Regions from separate parts of the Homo sapiens genome. Here regions 2, 3 and 4 are each linked to region 1. The links come from fine-mapping of genetic effects on gene expression. A gene starts in region 1. Each other region holds a variant in brackets. All regions are shown on one strand. Distances are between the middles of the regions.

Region 1 (5,202 bases):
CCAGTCTATCAGGCCCACAAACCATAAACCCAAGCACAAAAATCAATGGCAGTAAGAGTCTCAGGGATTCTGAAAACAGTACATCTAGACACTTGATATCAGCACCAGAAAGTTTACAGCCCAATCTCAGATGGTTTTAATATTTGTATCACTGGATTCTATCATGAGTTAACATCTAATTAGTGGGGCGAGAATTGAAGTCAGACTATTAAAAAATCTAGCTCAGCAATTTACTGGTGACCTTAGGCAAGTTCCTAAACCTCGTTTTCCAATTCTTCACCTGAAAAATGGAGATAACCTCACAACAATGCCCAGCAAGACGGTGAAAATTAAGCTTACGGGCAGGGCGCGGTGGCTCACGCCTGTAATCCCAGCACTTTGGGAGGCCGAGGTGGGCAGATCACAAGGTCAGGAGATCGAGACCACCCTGGCTAACACGGTGAAACCCCGTCTCTACTAAAAATACAAAAAATTAGCCGGTCGTGGTGACGGGCGCCTGTAGTCCCAGCCACCCGGGAGGCTGAGGCAGGAGAATGGCATGAACCCGGGAGGCGGAGTTTGCAGTGAGCCGAGATCGCGCCACTGTACTCCAGCCTGGGCGACAGCGTGAGACTACGTCTCAAAAAAAGAAAAGAAAAAAGAAAATTACAGCTTACTGCAGCCTGGGAGTATCTGGCTTATGATGTAACTATTAACGATTACTGAAAATATATCTCAATAATAAAACAGTAAATCTTTTGGCTAAGCCATAGCTTTTGATACAAATAAAGCTAAATGCCTATTAACTAATGGTGGAAACCACATTTTAGTTTATTCGAAGAGGTCAAGCACAATAGAGACAAAATGGGCTGGAATCCTAGTTCTGCCAGGATAACCTTGGCAACACAGGTTAACCTGCTGGACCCTCAATTTCCCATCTGGTTAAAAATACCTAGCTAACAGACTTCTGTAAGTTTAATGCGGTAATGTACAAAAGTTCCTAGTATTGCTATTTGTTAATTTTCCCAACAGTAAAAAAAGGATAAAGATGAAAATCAAAATCAGCTATGAAATCCTCATTCCTCATATTTACAGAGAAGGTTTCATTTATTCATTCTATAAATGTTTACTGCAAACCTACTGCGTGTTCTTGACACAGGGGATCAAGTGATGAACAAGACAGACAAGGTCTCTGCATTCCTGGTACTTACATCCTAATGAGGGAAGGCAGATAACCCAATAACCCAAAGAGACAATTTCAGAGAGAAATTTAAGTGCTATGAGCAACAGCAAACGGGTGATGTGGCTTGGCTGGAGGGGATGGTCATTTAGCTTGGATGCATAAGAACCTAGGCCTGCTTGACTGATCTCCTTTAGCCAAGTATAGTCCTTTAGCCAAGGACCTCACCTTGTATGATACTTGCGGGGTACAGTGCAGATGATGAGAAGCCAGGCCTTCGCTTTCACCCATCTGTGGAAGTATCTCTTTTGCAGCTGTAGTTTAAAATATTTCTAAATGCCCTCATCCCAATACTCAAACTCTGAGGGTCAGAGCAACACCTAGGGGGTCTCAAGCACCTCTGCGCAGTACGCAGACACATGGAAACCGACAACTTCACAGTCCCCTCAGCTCCAAGAGTCCCGACTGAGGAGACTGGTGGCTTGTGAGGCGGAGAAGGACAAGCACAAGTGTGCAGAAGGCAGCAAGCAAGTTGCGTTGCCGAAGGAAGGGCGGCGCGCCCCTGCTTAAGAAGTATCTGGACGACCTGCGACAGTGCCCATCAGCGACTCCAGAGGCCACAAACGCTCCCCGGGAAGCTGGGCAGCGCTAAGAGGCTGCCTGGGAGTTTCTGGCTTATGATGACAGTACTTAAAGAATTTACCTGACCACGGAATAAACAGAGACAGAGGTAGGAAAACCCAACTGTAGACAACGTTCAGACAGAGTGCATAAGTCCCTAAGACCCTGAACTAAGACGCTGCAGGGCCTCCAGGAAAGGACCAATGTGAGAGACACTGAGACGAGAGTTAGGGTGAGCCTGAAGGTGATCTGAACAGTAGTAATTGGAAACTAACAAAAAAAAAAAATTCCAGAAGGGGCCAGAAAGCTGATGAATATGTAAATTCAGACAAGAAAGGAATGTGCCCTGGGCCTCCAGCCCAGCACCGGGGAGCTGAGCAAGCCGGGGTTGGGAAGGCGGGCGAGCGGAGCGCCTGCCCCGCGAGCGTTGTCTCAGTCTCTCCGGCGCGCCCCATCCCGCGGATGTGGTAAAGCTTCGCGCTCGCCCCAATTTACCAGGCTTCCTGAGCCTCTAGCCCCGGCGTAGCGCCTCCCCGCTGCCCAGGACAGCTCCGCGCGCCGCGTCCTCCCGCACCTGCGCCGCGGCCCCTGCGCTCGGCTCCTCCTGGCGGTCAATCCTCTGAGCCGTCCCTCGAGGGAAGGTGTCCTGGGGTGGGTGAGACCCGGGTCCTCCTTCCCCGGGAGCTGCAGCCGGCACCCAAGCTCCCAGGCTTGGGTCTGCCCCAGGGCCGGAGCCTCCCCGGGCGACTCGGACAGACCCCGGTCCGGCAGAGAACCGCGGCGCCCCGCAAACAGCAGCCCTTCCGAGCCCGCGCCGCCGCCAGGCCCCCCGACACCCAGGCCCCATTTAGGCGGGCGCCCCGCCACTCACCTGAGCGCTGTGCAGCCGGAGACGCTCCCTAGTTCCCCGGGGCCGGGCTCCGGGGTTAGCGCACAGAACCGGGAGAAGGCAACCCCGGCTTCTCCGGTACCCCCGCAACGTGCAGCTGACAGCTCCCGCACCGGCCGCAGGAGTCGGGGGCGGGGATGGCCACTTGCAGACAGACTGCGGGGCCGGAGCCGCGCTGCGCACCGGCCGCGAAGCGCTCAAGTCCCCTCTCCCGGGCCGGCTGGCGGGCGCCACCAGCACGCGGCCAGTTCTGAGTACTTTGCCCAGAACTTCTCGGCGCGCGCCGCCCGGCGATTAGCCCGAGGAGCCGCGCAAGGGCGGGAGCGCAGGGGAGGGGCCTGAGAGGCCCAGGGGCGGGGCCCCGAGGGGGCGGGAGGGCGGCAGAGTGATGCACAATCTCACCAATCAGAAGTCGCCTTTCGGGAAGGAGGTGGGGCGATGTCCTCGGAAGAAGCCAGCGGATTCCATGACGCGGCGGGGGAACTAGGGACCCCGGATTCCGGATGGGTTGGGAGGGCGGAGGGAGGCGAGTCCTGCGGCGAGGCACTGGGTGGGGCTCCCGGTGGCCCAGCTCGGTGCCTGCGCGCGGTAGGCGTTCGGTAAATGTTCCTCTAGTGGCTTTTCCGGGCCAGGGAAGGAGGAAAAAGTGAGGGCAGCGCGGGAGGGGCAGGTTTACGGAGAAGGCTCCAGGGGACCCTTGCGGTCGCACAGGCTAGGAGAACTCGACCTCCCGAGAAAGTCAGACTGTGGCAGAGGAGTCGAGAACAGAGGAAATACATAGGGAGGCAGCACTCTAGGCACGAGATGACAAAGGACAGCATCAGTGTGAGACCCGGGGCTCGGAGACCGTGACCCTACCTCCAGAGGCAGTCGTGCAGATTCGTGCCGGGGTGATTTTGTTCTGTGCAGTTTATGTGCAAGGGGGTAGGAGGTGGGGAGAGCACCGTCGTTACTATTAAATCTCCCTGAAAGACGGAAAAGTCCACCCGACTTGACTTCCCACTAGCCCAATGGCCTTCTTTGATCCTAGGACGAATGCAAGCAGCTGATGGTTTGGGGTCAGTTTGCAGACTGCAAATGTGTCGAGTGCCGCAGGTGGCGGGTGGGAAGGGCATGAGCATTTAGTGAGCACCTAGTATATGCCAGGAGCAGTTGCGAGCTTGCAACTGTGAGAAAGGCGCACCAGGCTCCAGTACTCACGGGGCTTGCATTTTTTGTGGAAAGACAGACAATAAAGAAGAGAAAATACATATCTATGCAAAAAATAAAAGGCTGACAGACTGTTAGTACTGAGAGGAGGGCCAAGTCCACTTTCGAAAGTGGTTTAGCGCGTGATGGGGCGCTCACCCTGAGGGCCTCTAGGCGAGGGTGGCTTTTACCCAGATTCCTGAGCCTGGGAAAGGAGCTGCCACACCCAGTCTCGCACAGAGCGTTCCAGGCGAAGGGAATAGCAAATACAGGGTATTTAGCCTCCCTGAAGACCCAACTAACCGACCTCACCGAGCTGGGCACCGCGCGTGGCTCGCTGGGCTCAGCGCCTGGGACGGAGTAAGGGCTCCACAGTGTTAAATCCCCCTGCCAACCACCACCTGCAGCGCTCGACGCATTTTCAGTCTCCAAACTGACCCCAATTCAAGGTTTCTGAGACTCTTTCCGGAGCTATTCTGTTCACATTTCATTCACCACGCTCAGATCTTCGCTTTCTGGAACCATCCCCCTCGCGAAATGTCTGGGACTGTCTGTTTCGGATCTGGCAGGCGGCGGGCGAGGGCGGGAGGCGCCAGAGATGCTGCCGAGCAAATCCACTGTCATGCTGCCCACGTCGGCACACGGAGAAGCTTATTGGAGAAGATTTCAAATCGAATGACTCCGCGGTTCCTAAACCACCTCGCAAAGCCCGACCAGCGCCAGGTGGCTGGACGGGTAGTGGAAGGACGCGTCTGGCAGGCGCGCGGACCGTCCAAGGAGGCACCTTGCCCACGCCCAGCCCCGCCGTCGGAGCAGCTTAGACTGGGTTTTCCCAAACCTCCTTCCGTCTTTCTGTAATTTCTCTCTGAGAGAGGCTTGCTCTGTCCTCCTCCTGCCAGTCCCTTTCCTCGTTCAAGCTATTTTCTTTCTTTTTCTTTTGCTCTCCACCTTCAGCCTCTCCGCCTGTTTCTTTAGCATTGGTTTTTCTGTAGGAGACAAGCCTTCAATCCGAAAGGAAGTGATTTGCATAGGGCTTTGTTGTTTAGCATCCCGTTCCGAGCTTTTTCATTAATGTCTTCCTAATCAAATAATAATAGAGTGTACATTCTCTCTCTCTCTCTCTCTCTCTGTGTGTGTGTGTGTGTGTGTGTGTGTGTGTGTGTGTGTGTGTGTACTTGAGGCAGTTAATTGGACAGGATGAGAGAATTATTCACATTGTGCCTTGTCTCCAAGTAAAGGAGGAATCGTACTGTGGCTTTTCATAGTTTCATTTCCTCTTCTACTCCTAAATAAACTTCCAGGCTCTCCAGCTCCTAAAATCAAAAGGAAAAAATAAAAATAAAAG
Region 2 (5,202 bases), 49 kb after region 1:
GTGAGACAAGAACAGGGGCTGGACAGGGGAACGGCTGGCATTTGGGCTAAATGGGCCAACTCAGATGTTATAGGAGGTACCTCTTGGCAGAGGAACAGATAAAGCTGGACAGTAGAGAGAAAAGAAGAAATATGCCATTAAGAGAGAAATAAAGGTGAGAGAAAGAGTGAAAGTCTTGCTTTGTGGGTGGTGGTGATGTCTTGTTAGCCACTAGTTCTGGTTCTAGTTCTGTCCTGAGGACTAGATGGTCTCCTGCCCTTGCTTTCTGGGAGGCATTCTTGTATACTTATTATACATTCTCTTTTTTAGTTAACCTAGCTCAAAATTGGGTTCTGTTAATAGCTATCAAAAACCTTAATAATTACAAGAAATCCATAGCACCTAGAATTTAAGTAAATCGAGCCAAGTCCTGTGGCTACTTAGCAGTAGGAGCTGGGTTCAGACCCATCTCCTAGCGCTCTCTCCATCACACTCTGAGTGGCCACCCTGGCTGCCTCATTGTTTTGCAAATACACCGACCTCAGGAGCTCATGCTGATCCTATTAGAGTTTGCTCCTCCTGTCACAAACAGCCCTAGAGGCCACTTCCTCACCTCATTTAGGTCTCAATTCTAATGTCACTCAGAGATACCTACCCTGACAACCTCATCTAAAATAGTCTCTAAATTCTTTCTTGTATACTTACTATAAATATTAAGTTTCTAGGCTTTACATATTTATTTATTTTTACTAAAACTTATTGCTACTAGAATTTATATTGCATGTTTATTTGTATACTTTTTTATCTACCTCCCCCCGTCCCCACCAGAATATAAGCTCTTTGAGGTCTGGGATCACCTTTCTTATCCATTGCTGTATTTTCAGTGCACTGACTAGAACTGCACCTGGCATATGGAAGATATCCATAAGTGTTTGTTTCATCAGTTCATTAAGCCTAGATCAATGCCATTTTCATGGCCTTATAATATTTGATCACAAACCTAGGAACACTCAGAAAAATCCTACTGGAGTAATCTCAGCAGTCTGGGAGGCTGAGGTGGGTGGATCACTTGAGGCCAGGAGTTCGAGACCAGCCTGGCCAACATGAGGAAACCCTGTCTCTATTAAAAATACAAAAATTAGCTGGGCATGGTGGCACACACCTGTAGTCCCAGCTACTTGGGAGGCTGAAGCATGAGAATTGCCTGAACCTGGGAGGCGGAGGTTGCAATGAGCCAAGATGGTGCCACTGCACTCTAGCCTGGGTGCCAGAGCGAGACTCTGTCTCAAGGGAAAAAAAAAGGAATGAAAACAACCTCTGAAGAATGTCCGTGAAACTTAGTTTCTCATCCTGCAGAGAAGATAGATGTCTGCTGGCTATTCTTCTGGACTGAAAGGATGTAGACAGTTGAGGCAATGTGCTCTGATCCAGCATTTATCAGAACAAAACAAAATACGTGTACATTCATTTCTAGTTGTTCTTTCACAGTTTTTCTGGCCTGGGAAAACAAAGCTTCAGTGACAGTCAAAACGCTTTTGTTCCTATGATATCACACTTTAAATTGCAAATGGTATCTACCTTGTTCTTGGCTTCATGTTATTTTCTGGGTCTGTTTTAAAAGATTGTTCACTGTGTTCATGCTCACTGTGTCCAGTCGGCCTGAGATGGTCTGGCTTGCTGAGAGTAGCCTGTCCCCACAGCTGTATGGGAGGAGAGCTGCTAGGACCTCAAAATGTCCAAATAGTGGCACTCACAGGAAGTCAGGAAGGGCGAGCTGAGGGAGGAAGCAGAGGAAATGGGATGTGCTCCCATCTGAGCCTGACTAGGATCTCTCAGTTTATAATTTTGAAACCCGACTATCAAACAGAGGGTTACTTTAGCTGTGGCTTTCAGACCCTGGTCCCCGTGTAGCCATGTCAATGGTAGCCCCTGACTAGCTACCCTGACACGCCTGCTATTTCATCCGTTGCTTTTAACAATGGGCTAATGAAAGGATGCAAGTAGCCGGAGAGTTAGCACCAGTCCATAACCAACACTGAAAAAATGGAACTGAAGAATTTAATAATAATATTAATTTGTGCTTGTATGTTACTCTTTCATGTTAACTTCTTCACTTTCATAGCACTTAATTTTAATCGATAAGAAACTCACTGTGATTTGGTGGCTGAGTGTGGTTGTTCAGCTAGTGAGTAGTAAGGTCTGGACTCAAACTCAGATCTCTTGACTGCAAGATCAGGGCTCTTTCCACCGCAGCTGCCTCCCTATGTCTGCATTCAAAGAATGGCTTGCTATACAATTTATTTTCGTGATTATGTTACATTGCCAAATAAGCACGGTCTTTTAGAGTCACAAATTCAGAGAAAGCTAAAGATAAATCAGCAGCCTGAAAAAGACAGTTGATAGTCTTTATTTGGTAAATCACAACACGAAGCCAGACCTTGACCCAAATTTGATGGTAGCCTTGTTTCTAATGAGGGCCCTGTCTGATGCAAGTGAAAAATGCAGTAACTCAGATTTATAGGCAGCCATCTCCATGCCTGGGGAGGCAGTGCCTGGAGCCTTCTCATCTGGCTTGCTGAGTCAAAGTCACTAAGTCTTTCTGCTCCAGAAACCACAAAAGTCACTTTGTTCTTTGACTTAGTCCTGCCAAAATTCAAAACTTGGTGAAATCGTTGAAATGGCCAGCCAGATGCCATTCCTTCACCAGACTCCCGATAGAAAATGACGTCGTGAAAAAATGACGTCGTGAGTTCAGCAACTCCCTAGCTAATTCCTGAGATTTCAAAGGCATTAGTAATTAATTCCACTTCTCCCTTCCTTCCACTAGCCACTCATGTCAAATAAGGGGAGTCAATGTTTGCTTGAATTACGCAGATAATTGCTTATTCTTTCCACTTGCCTAGGC[G/A]TGTTCTGAAAGCCTAGATAACAATTACCACAGGAAGTGGTGACTTTCCATCTCACCTCTTTGCTTTGTTTATCATTTTAAAAAATGAACTGTGATCAGACAGATATTCCAATGCCCAGGGGCTGAGATGTGTAAACAGAGAAGATGGTAGAAGGGAAGGGCCCTGAGCTTGCTCAGAAAGTTACAGGTGGAAGAAAGGCCTTGGGGAGAGTAAGAAAGCATAAAGACATCTCTTTAACCTTCCTTTTAAAGTCTTAAAGTTTGTGATGCAGCAATTAAACTTCTGAGAATTTACCTTTATGTCAGTCAGGGTCTAACCTGGAAAAGAGAAAGCTCTCTGAGTGTTCAGAGCAGAGATCAATGCAGGGAAGTGGTTGCTAGGGTAAGGGGTGCACCCCAGAGCTGAGCACCACCAAGAAGCCCTCTAGCTGCTGGGCTGAGGGGACCTGGGTGACAGGTGGTGTCATCAGAGCTGGGACCTTGATGGGCCTGCCTGGCAGTGGTGAGACCAGTGGGGAGAGACATGGCTGCTGGAGCCTGAGCTTCTCCCCGCCCCCCTAGCCAGTCTCCCATTGCACAAACCCAGCTGGAAACCAAGGGACTCAGGGCCCTGAAAAGCCCAGCCTGCATGGGGTCACACAGCCCTGTGACATAAGGCAGAACTGGGGGAGGGCAAGAAATGGATCCAAGAGCTCACCGGCCCAAGGAAGCAACCTAAAAAGAAATCATCAATAAGTAAATGTTTGTGAATGGATAGAAAAAGTCACAGATTCTTGTACCTAAAGACTAAGTTTGGATTTAAGATAAGTGAGATAACGAGAAATCATTCCAGAAAAAGAAGTCCTGGAAAATATATCAGGCGAAGGATAGGTGGAATAAAAGCTAGAGTTAGGAGAAGTAAAAATAGACTATGTACTTGTTAAATGATAAGACGGAGAGAAACAACCCGAGTCAAAGTAGATAAAACATGCCACGACAAACTGCAAATTACAGCTCAAGTTCTCACAAATGAGTTGGACCTCATTTATAAGGGGAGAGTGTCAAAATAATTCCCTGTGAGATGTGACATGGGACGAAGCAGTGACAAAGAATCACAGAAGACAAACCTTTATCTTGAGGTCTTACCACACACTCAGGCACAAATTCGGTGTGCTGAGAGGCTGGAGTCCATGTCCTGATAGGTGATGGGGAATAAAGGATGAAATTGACAAAGAAACAGTGACACGAGGTCACAGTAAAGCTGTGGTATAGGCCTTTGAGGGCATGAACAGAATAAGATCAAAAAGCAACAGGAAACTTGAAGAGAGGATTCCCAAAGGAAAACCCAATTTTTATTTTGCCAAGAAAAGCCTAAACAAACAAAAGCTATATATCGCTGAAGAAATAGGAGAACAACAACAAAAAAAAAAATCCCAGAATAAAGCCAGGTCTTTACGTTGAATTCATTTAGATAAAATAAAACTCATTACATTGTCCTATTTTTCTCTATGTGTTACAAAGTGGTATTCGGTAAGCACTGGATTTTATGACCCCTGAATTTCTTCCTAGTCCTAAGATTCTACGATCTTGGCCTGTTTCGTTAAAGCGGTTGTGGTTCTGTGTCGGGCATTAGGTGAAGAGACTATTAGGGTTAAGAGCAGATTTTAATTTAATTGATATCCAACCAGATGATCGACTTGTCACCAATCGCCACTGAAGAACTGTATTGATAATGGGAAAATTAATCTCCTTAACAGTAGGAAGGAGGAAATGTGTTGGCCACACTCTCATCCCCAATGACCCTTCACCATGTTTGTACCAGATGAAATTGACTTTCTTTGGCTGAAGCTCTTTGGACACACTTAGCATCTAACCCAAGAGCAAACAATCTCTAAATTGGTCCGAAATTTAGGGAGTGGCCTGGTGCAAGAAATACCATCCATACAGAGACGAGGGAGCTAAACAGACTCTAGCTCCTTTTGAGAATTTGACTGTGAGATATGTGTAGAAAGAATTTAATTCCTCATTGTGTTAATGGTGGGGCAATTGTCAAGCTGGAGACTTCCTGATACCAAAAGATTTAGCAGCTCTCCTTTAGTGGCCCAGTTCAGCAGTGTAGCTCCGTGAGTGGTTCCTGAAAGCTTCATCTTGAGTCTTTCTTTTCCCCTCCCAATGACGCTACAAGCCATTTAATATCCATTCCTGCTTAAACCGGTTAGAGTGGATTCTGTTCTCTGAAACTTACCAAATGTAATTCCTGCATTAAAGGTATTACAGCCTTTTGGGGAGATAGACATGTGAACAAATCTATGAGGGTAATGCACTTTCAGGTACATAGC
Region 3 (5,202 bases), 70 kb before region 1:
AAAGTGTTGCTTACTGTCTCCTTTTCTCTCCCAGTTCCATGGGCAGTCACCAAAGTTTTGTCCCTCATCCACTTCTCTCTATGCACTTCAGCTCTTGATCATCTTTACAGGCCCCTTACCTTAGTAAAGCCTCTACACTGCTCCCTACCCCCACACTCCAGTCCCCAGCCTGGTGTTGGCCCCTGGATTCATCACTGGAACAGCAAGCCTATGCTCATTACTCCCTCATGCTGATATTAATACCTGCCACTGGCTTCCCTGACTCTGATTAAGATACCCACCCTCTATTAATCCAACCAAACTCCCTCTCCCAGAGCCCCCAGTAGTGTAGATTCTCTCTCTCCCTGACACTGACCTCATCACCCCCCAATGTGTTTTATATTCTTCTATTCTCAAAACAACCTATCCATTTTAGACCACCATTAGGCCCTGCAACTGACTCCACATTTTCTCTCCCAGCACTTCAATCCTTATATCCATTCCCTAGTTCAATTTATCGCCAGGCTCTCCCCTGCTCCAAATTCCCAATGCCTACAAGCTTAAGTAAAATAGCAAGGCCTGGCAGGCAAAACCCTCCACTACATAGTTGCATTTCACTGGTTTTGGACTCTGGATCTACCTCTCACTCTGTGGCTAAATGTCTGAGTTGCTTCGTCATGTGAAAGCAGGCATGAATAACTGTACTAACCTCACAGGGTTTTGTGAAGATTGACTAAAATAATGCATGTAAAACACTCAGCATAGTCCTTGCCAGACATCACTCAGTTACACTTTGGCTGTTATCACTCAAACTTCATCTCTAACAACTCATATATACATACCCTGTATTCTGCACTCTCCCTTTCTCCTAGTGAGTCCTTCTTTATGGAGCACCCTCCTAACCCACTTTCTCTCTTCCGTCTGTGGCAAAGTCCTCCATCTTCCGAAGATCACTTTCAGCATTGCCTTTTCCATGAAGCCTTTTCTCAACCCCTCTCCCACCCCAAATGCGTTTGTTTCCTCTTGGACTCTGCTTTCCTTTTGCGCTACCTGAAAGTATTAGTCACGTTTCCTGCACTCTGACTCACTCTTCATATCCTGACTGCTAGATGTTGGGTCTATATCTCACTCGGGACTGCATTTTATTCACCTCTACATTCTGTGGAAAGTAATTTACAAAGACTGGTAGCAATCTTTGTTGAGCCAAGGAAAGAGTTCTCAGTGTGAGCACATTTATTTATTCCCATAGGAGACTTCTGTCTTTACTGTTCACTGGAATCATTTGGGATTACTTATGTATTTCAGAATATTTCAGCTATTCCTTCCTTGTGAGATCTCCTTGCCATTTTAAGTCTTTGGCCACAAGAGACATCATTTCTCTCTTTTCTCTGACTTGTTTCAAATATTTCTAGTACCATAGAGATGTTATGCCCAAAGCATCCTTCTTTGGGGATTTCATTTCCTGGTTCCTGCCACTTTCTATCACTAGTTAATGCTTCCTTGTTGGCTCAGAAAGAAACCCAGAGCTATCATTCTCTGCATTATTTTTTCAGTCTTCTTAAAAATTAAATGATCGGCAAAACAAGTCAAGAGTTTATCAGAAGTTAGCCGAATGAAACATCCAGTGGGTGATTATCTGATTGAATCTCCTTTTTATCAGCACATGTGGTATTCATTCTAAAGTTTCAGTTTCTGAGAAGAAAGCGCCCTCCATAGCCTCTATCTGGCCATCCATAATACTGATCCTATTACAATCTTTCTTCCCTACCATGCCCTCTTTACCCAGGGATTCATCATTAAGGTCTAGATTTCCCCAAGACTGCTTCTTTACAGTAAAACATCCCCTTCTAAAATCATATTCTAGTCACGAGAACCACGCTAACCGTGGTGAGACAGATCCAGTGATGCTATCTATATCCAAGTTTTAATGTTTCAAGTTTATTTTGCTTCATTCTCATAAGCTGCACAATGGCAAAGAGCTGCAGGTATTTTACCAACCAGCTGCCCAGGCTTTTTTAAAAAGAAATTACTGATGTTCTCCTCCTCTGTTATTGGTCTTTTTATCTTTGCTCTGCCGGTTGTTCTCTAGCCAATCAAGTTTTAACGTTTTTTCCTTCCCATCAAATTTCAGTTCAACTCTCTTAAACAAGTTAGCAAATCTCTTGCCAAACACACTTGTCCTCAAAAGATGGCAAGAGCCTGCTCCACAAACCAAACTCGGCTTATCAACACTATCTGTGCTGTAGTTACTTTGCGTGTCCTTTTCAAGCACATGGTCTACCTTTCCCCAAAAAGTAGAGACATCAAACATCCCCCTCAAGTTCTCTACTTTTCTACCATGACTTCACAGAACTCATGATACATTTGAGGTTTCTTTTGACATTTAGAGTGTTTTTACCCAAACCAGTGAACGGGGTGATAACTGATAGATCTGATATTTTGGTAAGTTAGCATGCATGCCTTGGCTTGTTATCCAGCAATATCCACTCTCCCCTTCTTTAATAATAGAACTCTCGAGTTTTAATGTGGTTCATGGGCATCTAATAAGAGGCTTTCACTTCTAGCATTCTTTGCCGCTTGGTAGGGGCTTGTGACTAAGGGCTGCCAATGAGATGTGAGCAGAGTTGTTTGTCTTCCAGGTCATGGTCCTAAAAAGAGATACACATGTTCCCTGCCCTTTCCCCATTCCTGAGAGCTGGGAGGTGGTGATAGCTGGACCCAGAAATGAAAGACACACTGGTTGAAGACCATAGTGTCACCATGCCAGCCAA[G/A]GAATAACAATATCTGAACAGTTACATGAGAGAGAAATAAACTTTAATCGTGTTAAAGTTACCTAATTTTTGAATCTCTCAGTTACACAGGTATAGCACAAATAACATTGGCCCTAAGAAGCTGGCATGCCTTCAAATTAGGAACCTTAGGTCACCTCTGTACGTCTTAACAGAAAGCTGCCAATCACCTCTGTCCTGGCCAGCTTCCTGTGCCAGAAACAGGAACCTATGGCAGTAAGAATCCTTTTCATTATTTGACAAAATAAGGAAAGCTACTGTTTTTTTTTTCTTTCTTTTTTTTTTTTTTTTTTTTTTTTTGGAGACAGAGTCTTGCTTTTCTCGCCCAGGCTGGAGCGCAGTGGCGTGATCTCAGCTCAGATCTCAGCTCACTGCAACCTCTGCCTCCCAGGTTCAAGCAATTCTTCTGCCTCAGTCTCATGAGTAGCTGGGATTACAGGCACACACCACCATGCCCGGCTAATTTTTGTACTTTTTAGTAGAGATGGGGTTTCGCCATGTTGGTCAGGCTGGTCTCGAACTTCTGACCTCAGGTGATCCACCTGCCTCGGCCTCCCAAAGTGCTGAGATTACAGGTGTGAGCCACCGTGGCTGGCCGAAAGCTACTATTTTCAATTTGAAGGTGTGTATTACCCTGGCCTGAAATAATCCCAAATGCTCAAAATAGGATAGATGGTAGACATCCAATCTTCAAATCATTTTCACCTTCTCCAGCAAGCCAGCCCCTTTCATGTTGCATTTATCACCCACGTGGTCCCAAGAGTCACTACAGATCAGGATGAATCAATGTTCTGAATGGAGAGAGATGAGTCCATAGGTCCTATGACAACTCCTCCATTCCTGAATGGAGAAATCAGAAATGGGCTGAGTTTTCCTCCTCCTTCTGCAGCTTAGCTACTCTTACTTGTCCTTCAACACCTTACAAGGAAGAAATACTTATGAATAAATGTGGGCTAATAAAGGAAGCTACAGTGGAAAGACAGGTGGCAAAAAGAAGACAGGCACACTGATGAAAACTCAATTCAGTATATATCCTATAAAGTAACTACTATGTGTCCACTGCTGTGCTAACCCTTCAGTGATGGAAACTAAGTGACAGAAACTTAATCCAAGGAGGAAACCACTGTGATCAAGGAGATAAGATGTCACAAATGAAACAAGCCAGAACACACCCCAGGGTGGGCCATCTGGTAGGTGCTATGGGCAGTCACAAGGGAAGAGCTCAGTGGGGCTGGAGTTGTGAGAAAAAGCTTAGGAAGAGGTGGCCTGCAGGGAGCCGTGAAGATGTGGATAGGGCTTGACTAGGTAGAGAGAAGCATGGAGGACAAAGCTGTGAGCTGGGTCGGGAGGGGCACCTCCTGCAACATTTCTCAACCCCGGCTGCGTGACAGGATCACCCTGGGAAGCTTCTACAAAATCCCAAAGCCTGGTGCCATTTCATACTAACTGGTCCAGACACTGGGGATGAGGCCAGGGCAAGGGCATCCTGAGACACTCCCAGGTGATTTGGATACACAGCAAGGGTTGAGCCACTGCTCTAACATAATCTTGCATCCAGAAATGACAGATTTACTCCACAGAACTGCCTTCTTTAATTTTGGTATTTAATTTTGTTTGAGCATCTTATGCCAGACCTATGTCTGCTGCATCCAATTTATACCAAATTGAAATGCAAAGCAGGATGTGACTTAGCAGTTTAAAGGGTAAGAAAAGATAGCACCACCCAAGAACTTAAAATAACATCTGGTGGTTTGAATTTTATCAGTGGGTGTTATTACGCTCCCTTAACCGACAACTGCTTGCGGAAGCTTGGTAGAGTTTTAACAATTGGCAACCACAGGCAGCATTTCATTACTTATCTAAAAAGACTATCAATTGAGTTACTATGAAATGTGAGCATGAAGTTTTAAAACTTCCCTATTTCCTACAAAAATCAACTTATCATCTTTTCAGAAATGTAAACAGCCAGCTAACAATGGGTAATGCTCTATAAGTGCTAACTGAACACTCTCAAATAACAAGAAACAAAATACCCTAGTGGGTCATGTATCAGATGTACACACTTCAAGTTTGTTTGTCCACTTAACTAAAAATAACCCTGGGACTCAGAATCTAAGCTTAAACCAAATTCTATAAATCGAAGTCCCCAAGATATATTTTGGAGGTATCCTTCCAAAACTGCAGGGGCGATAATAATTCCTTGTAAGAGAATCACTAATTTAGGGAACATAGGTGGGGAGAAAAAGGGATACAGGAAGTTTTACTCACTTCTAGGGGAAAGAAAGATTACTGCAAAAAACTTAACCTGAGACACTTTTAAACTAGTGCAAACTGGAAAAAAGAGAGACATAAAAGGAAAAGGCAGAGTAAACAGGTTTTAAAAAGGTGGGGTGGTTACTGGTAGACTAGAGCTAAAAGGCAAGAAAAACCTAAA
Region 4 (5,000 bases), 120 kb before region 1:
CTGAGAGCTGTCTTTATTCTCTGAGGCCCCCAAATTACAATCTGTGCAAGAGACTCCCTGAACCAGGAAAAGGAAGATCTTTCCCTCTCTGCAAGTGTACTGTAAAACCACAGGAATGAAACACCTTGTTAGGCTCCCTGTGGAATTTGTTGTCTGTAAGCCCACAGGGCTCAGGCAACTGTTGAATAAGTGCATTGGACCTTTCTCCAGGACAAACCTTGGCCCAGTCTAGGTATGTGGCAGCTCTGCAGCCAGCAGGTTTTCACAAAGTGGGAAAGACAGAACTGCTGGATGGGGCCCATTACAGACTTTCAACAAGGTGGAGACCTCTGCAGGAGGACTGGATCAATGGATCCACTCAGTATGGCAACCTTTGTCCTGCTGAGGAGGCAGCTTCTTCAATGGAGGTGAAACTCAGGACATTTCCTCTGTGTAGGGAGGCATTATCTTCTCATTGTTTAAAAGTTTGTATTATTAAAAAGTAACAATGTTTTATAGGAATTTCCTCCCACAAAACTTAAGATGCCCTAATTGCAACTGATTATTTTAATTCTTCAAATTCTTTGAAGATCCTTTAAGGGTGGGCCAGGTAACTCTTGCCATTTCACGGATGAACTGCACAACAAAACACTCATAACAGTCTAATGGTAATTAGGACAAGCATTCCAGGTAGCAATCTGTATAAAGGATGAAATGGTTTCCTTATAACCCACCTCATATCCAACATGTTTTAAATTTAGAGGGTAAGGGAAGAGAGAGCTGAAGGAATCAGTAATGTACGAAACAAAAATACGAAGTAGGAAAGGAAGGCAATAGAGGGAATATCTTCTCTCTTCCCATATTACACACTGCCCTCCCACTGAAAAATTTTAAATCCATTTTCTCTTTAAGAAATAATATATGAAAATTGAAAAAAAAGTTAAGCAGAAAGATAAATAAGCACTTAGAACTCCAGCCTCCATCACTTAAATGTTTGTATATATCCTTCCAGACTTTTTAGTATACCTATATATGCCCGAAATAGGATCATACCTATATATTGTTTTGTAACCTTACATTTTTACTTTACATTTTATGCTGAGGACATCTTTCTACAACTATAAAAAATAACGCTGGCCACTCCATCTGTAAGAGCAGAGAAATACCAGGTAAGGATTATGGACTCTGGGGTCAAACAGGTGAGAATTCAAGTCTCATGCTGGCTGCTTTGTAACCATGTGACCCTCAGGAAGCTGTTATTTTATCTAAGTCTCAAGTTTCTTATTTATGCAATAGAGATCATAATGATACCTACTTCGCAGGCTGCAGCTAGAATTAAAATAATGCACGTAAAGTAATTAGCAAATACCTGACGTGACAGTTATGTGCTCGATGTTAAGTAGCTCTCATTATTATTATTAGTGAGTATTCTATTATATTACGTTTTTGAAAAAATTCAATCCCCTATTGTTTGGCATTTAGATTATTTCTATTTTTTTAACCTTTTATTTTGAAATCATTATTGACTTACAGGTAATTGCAAAATAGTAAAGTCCCACATACCCTATACCCAGTTTCTCCCAGTAGTTACATCTTACACATCTATGGTACAATATAAAAACGTGGGAGTTGACATTAGTATAATCTACAGATTTTATTCAGATTTCACCAGATTTACATTCACTGATCTGTTTGTATGTGTGTGGGTATAAGTAAATGCAATTTTATCACATGTCCACATTCCTGTAACCAGCACCACAATCAGGATACAGAATTTTTCATCACTACAAGATCCCTTGTGCTACCCCTTTATAATCACACTCCCCTTTACTTCCTCCATCTCCATAATTATATCATTTCAAAACATTTATGTAAGTGGAACCCTACAGATATGGTTTGGCTGTGTCCCCACCCAAATCTTATCTTGAATTATAGCTCCCATAATTCCCATGTGTTATGGGAGGGACTCAGTGAAGGATAATTGAATCACGGGGGTGGCTTCCCAAATACTGTTCTTGTGGTAGTAAATAAGTCTCATGAGATCTGATGGTTTTATAAGGGGTTTCCCTTTTCACTTAGCTTTAATTCTCTCTTGCCTGCCACCATGTAAGACATGCTTTT[C/T]GTCATCTGCCATGATTGTGAGGCCTCCCCAGCCACATGGAACTGTGAGTCCATTAAACCTCTTTTTCTTTATAAATTACCCAGTTTCGGGTATGTCTTTATCAGCAGCATGAAAATGGAGTAATACACCTATACTATGTAATGTTTTGAGATTGGTTATTTTCTGTCAGCATAACGTCCCTGAGATCCATCCAAGTTGCTATGTATATCAATAGTTTGTTCCTTGGTATTGCTGAGGAGTATTCCATTGTATGGATGTACCACAGTTTGTTTAACCATTCATCTGTTGAAAACCACTTGAGTTTGTTTCCAGTCTTTGGCCAATACAAATAAACTTGCTTTGAACATGGGTATAGATTTGTGTGTGGACATAAATTTTCATTTATCTGGAACAAATGCTCAGAAATGAGTGTTGGGTTGCATGGTAAATGCATGTTTAATTTTATACAACACTGCCAAACTGTTTTCCAGAGTGGCTACACCATTTTACATAGCTACAAGCAATGTATGACAGATTAAATTTATATGCATTTTCACCAGCATTTGATACTATATTTCCTTTTAACTTTGGCTCTTCTAATAGGTGTGTAGTGATATCTCATCATGGCTTTAATCTGCATTTTCCTAATGGCTAATGATGTTGAATACCTATTTCTAATTTTTGATGTGACAATGCAAAATGGATACTTTGTTTGGATAAATTCTAAGTTAATTCCTACAATGAATTCTTCAAAGTGGAATTGCTAGATAGGCAGATTTTAAAAATAGTGAGAAAATAATATCATATTGCCCTCCAGAAAATTACCAATTTACACTCCCACCAACATCACATGAATTGCTCAGCTTTTAAAGTACTAACTCTCTCTCATTGTCTCCCCCACAAGGTTAAAAAGAAAGTTCTTGCCAATACATTCTCCACTACTAGGGAAATAAAATAAAGATTAGGTTTCCCTAAATCTTAATAGAGCAGAAAATGAACCAACTAAGATACTCTCTCTAAGGACATCTCACATTCAGACATGCACTTAACATTTTCATCAAACACATTAGGAAGAAAGAAAACTCATTTACCTTTATGGGCAATATGACACAGATCTTCTTGCATTTTAGAAAACTCTGATGAGGTTTCAGAGCCATCAGAATAATTTTTCTCTTCTCCAAAATCTAGTGTTGACAAATTAGGATTGGAGGAGTGTAGTCTTACTGGGCCAGAAAAAGGTTTCGGGACCTGAAGTAACACCAAAGGGAGATATTTCTTTTCAGATGCAGATTGCTTAGAATATTTACTTGATTCTAAGATTGAAACATGGTAATACAAATACAAAACATTTTATAGGTAGGTCTTTTTTTTTTTTTTTTGGGGGGGATGGAGTCTCGCTCTGCCACCCAGGCTGGAGTGCAGTGGCACAATCTCCGCTCACTGCAAGCTCCACCTCCCGAGTTCACAGCATTCTCCTGCCTCAGCCTCCCAAGTAGCTGGGACTACAGGCGCCCGCCACCACGCCCGGCTAATTTTTTGTATTTTTAGTAGAGACGGGGTTTCACCGTGTTAGCCAGGATGGTCTCGATCTCCTGACCTTGTGTTCTGCCCGCCTCAGCCTTCCAAAGTGCTGGGATTACAGGCGTGAGCCACCGCGCCCAGCCTAGGTAGGTCTTTCTACTGAGTGATAACTTATTTTAAAAAATGAGAACTCAAGACAACACTTTCCACAGAAACTTGCTTCTTGTGAGCTAAAAATGGGTGAGAAATCACATATTCTTTTGGAAATGATAGAAGCATTAAAGCTATAGGTTGAAAATGACAGCTAAAGCTGCCAGGCTTTCTCATTTATACTCAATTCCTTCCTCCTGGCAATAATCATCCATGTATCCAGGCGGTTAGTAATGGATAGGTTTAAAATGCTTTTCTTTGCACCTAGGGCTTCTACAAAACAAATGACCTTCATTTGTACATGGAACATTCTTTACTTCCAAAGTGCTTATCTTCAGTCCATAAACTACTTTGAACCAAAGAGTGTACACAAGTGTATCAGGTGACCTAACCAAAAGCTTGAGATTTATGTTGATTCTAAAACTGTTGCAATTAATATGCAACAGTTAAGCTGCAAATCTTGGCCTGTGGCTTAGCTGTGCATTGGGAAAGCTCCTAGCATGACACAGTGAATCCTGGATGAGGGATTGGGAGTTTGGAGATAAGAGGCCAAGGAGAATCTACACCATGTCCTGTGCCCAGAGAATCAGGCCTGTGGGCTTAGAGGGATGACAAATCCATGGAGCATCAGCGGAAGACACAGGTCACAGCACACAGCAACTGCAGCCACAAAACAAGGCACAAACACAAGCAGGGAAGAGCACAGGCAGGCTCAACAGTGAAGGTGGGGAAACCAAAAGCCCTAGAAATGGCAGCAGTCCCTGCGACCTCACACCCTTTTTCCCTTAGAAAAAATTCTCTCCCTTGCCCACGATCCATTATGTGCTTATCCTAGCACCCAGATAATCTAAGTGATTCAATTCATCTCGCTACAGAGGACACTGGAAAGAACAACTACAGAATATTCACTCATCTATTCTCCTAGCTGAGTCAAGGTAGCTGCTGGCACACGGCATGCAGAGCAGGGCCAATGAAGAAACCAGTCTGTCAGGGGAAGCAATGGTTACCTGCAGTGTTCCTTTAGCATCTTTGCCAATAGCTCTGGACCGCCACCTCCTGTGCGATCTTTTTTCCTTTTTGGGACTTTCAAAAGATCCACCCTTTGTTTCAAAACAGGAAAGAGAGCACAGACAGTAAAGTCCACCAAACCGACAAGGATAAATGCATAGCAAAGTGACCACCTCCATCCCCTTGACTTTGGCTGAAGCAACTGACCACAGCATCCCACTGTTAGTGAAAGGCTGGGAGG

Evidence for each region. PIP is the estimated chance that this variant, and not a neighbour inherited with it, causes the effect.
Region 2: its variant is fine-mapped to the expression of OSBPL3 in whole blood (TOPMed, PIP above 0.99). The same link has a PIP of 0.9 or more in blood mononuclear cells.
Region 3: its variant is fine-mapped to the expression of OSBPL3 in whole blood (TOPMed, PIP above 0.99). The same link has a PIP of 0.9 or more in blood mononuclear cells.
Region 4: its variant is fine-mapped to the expression of OSBPL3 in lung (GTEx, PIP 0.93).

Annotation. Positions count from the first base shown.
Region 1 is chr7:24,977,235-24,982,436 of GRCh38, forward strand. OSBPL3 (oxysterol binding protein like 3) reads right to left here and starts at 2,944. Exons shown (of 23, transcript NM_015550.4): 1 at 2,652-2,944. RefSeq lists silencers at 2,334-2,543, 2,594-3,103 and an enhancer at 4,244-4,413.
Region 2 is chr7:25,025,895-25,031,096 of GRCh38, forward strand. No RefSeq gene overlaps it. Among named protein-coding and RNA genes, the nearest start is that of OSBPL3, 48 kb to the left of the region's middle. RefSeq lists an enhancer at 2,924-3,425. The variant G/A (reference allele first, on the strand shown) is at 2,885.
Region 3 is chr7:24,906,741-24,911,942 of GRCh38, forward strand. The region is part of intron 1 of OSBPL3 (oxysterol binding protein like 3); the gene reads right to left. Among named protein-coding and RNA genes, the nearest start is that of OSBPL3, 71 kb to the right of the region's middle. RefSeq lists an enhancer at 3,940-4,089. The variant G/A (reference allele first, on the strand shown) is at 2,751.
Region 4 is chr7:24,858,442-24,863,441 of GRCh38, forward strand. OSBPL3 (oxysterol binding protein like 3) reads right to left here. Exons shown (of 23, transcript NM_015550.4): 9 at 4,759-4,851; 10 at 3,172-3,328. Among named protein-coding and RNA genes, the nearest start is that of GSDME, 100 kb to the left of the region's middle. The variant C/T (reference allele first, on the strand shown) is at 2,101.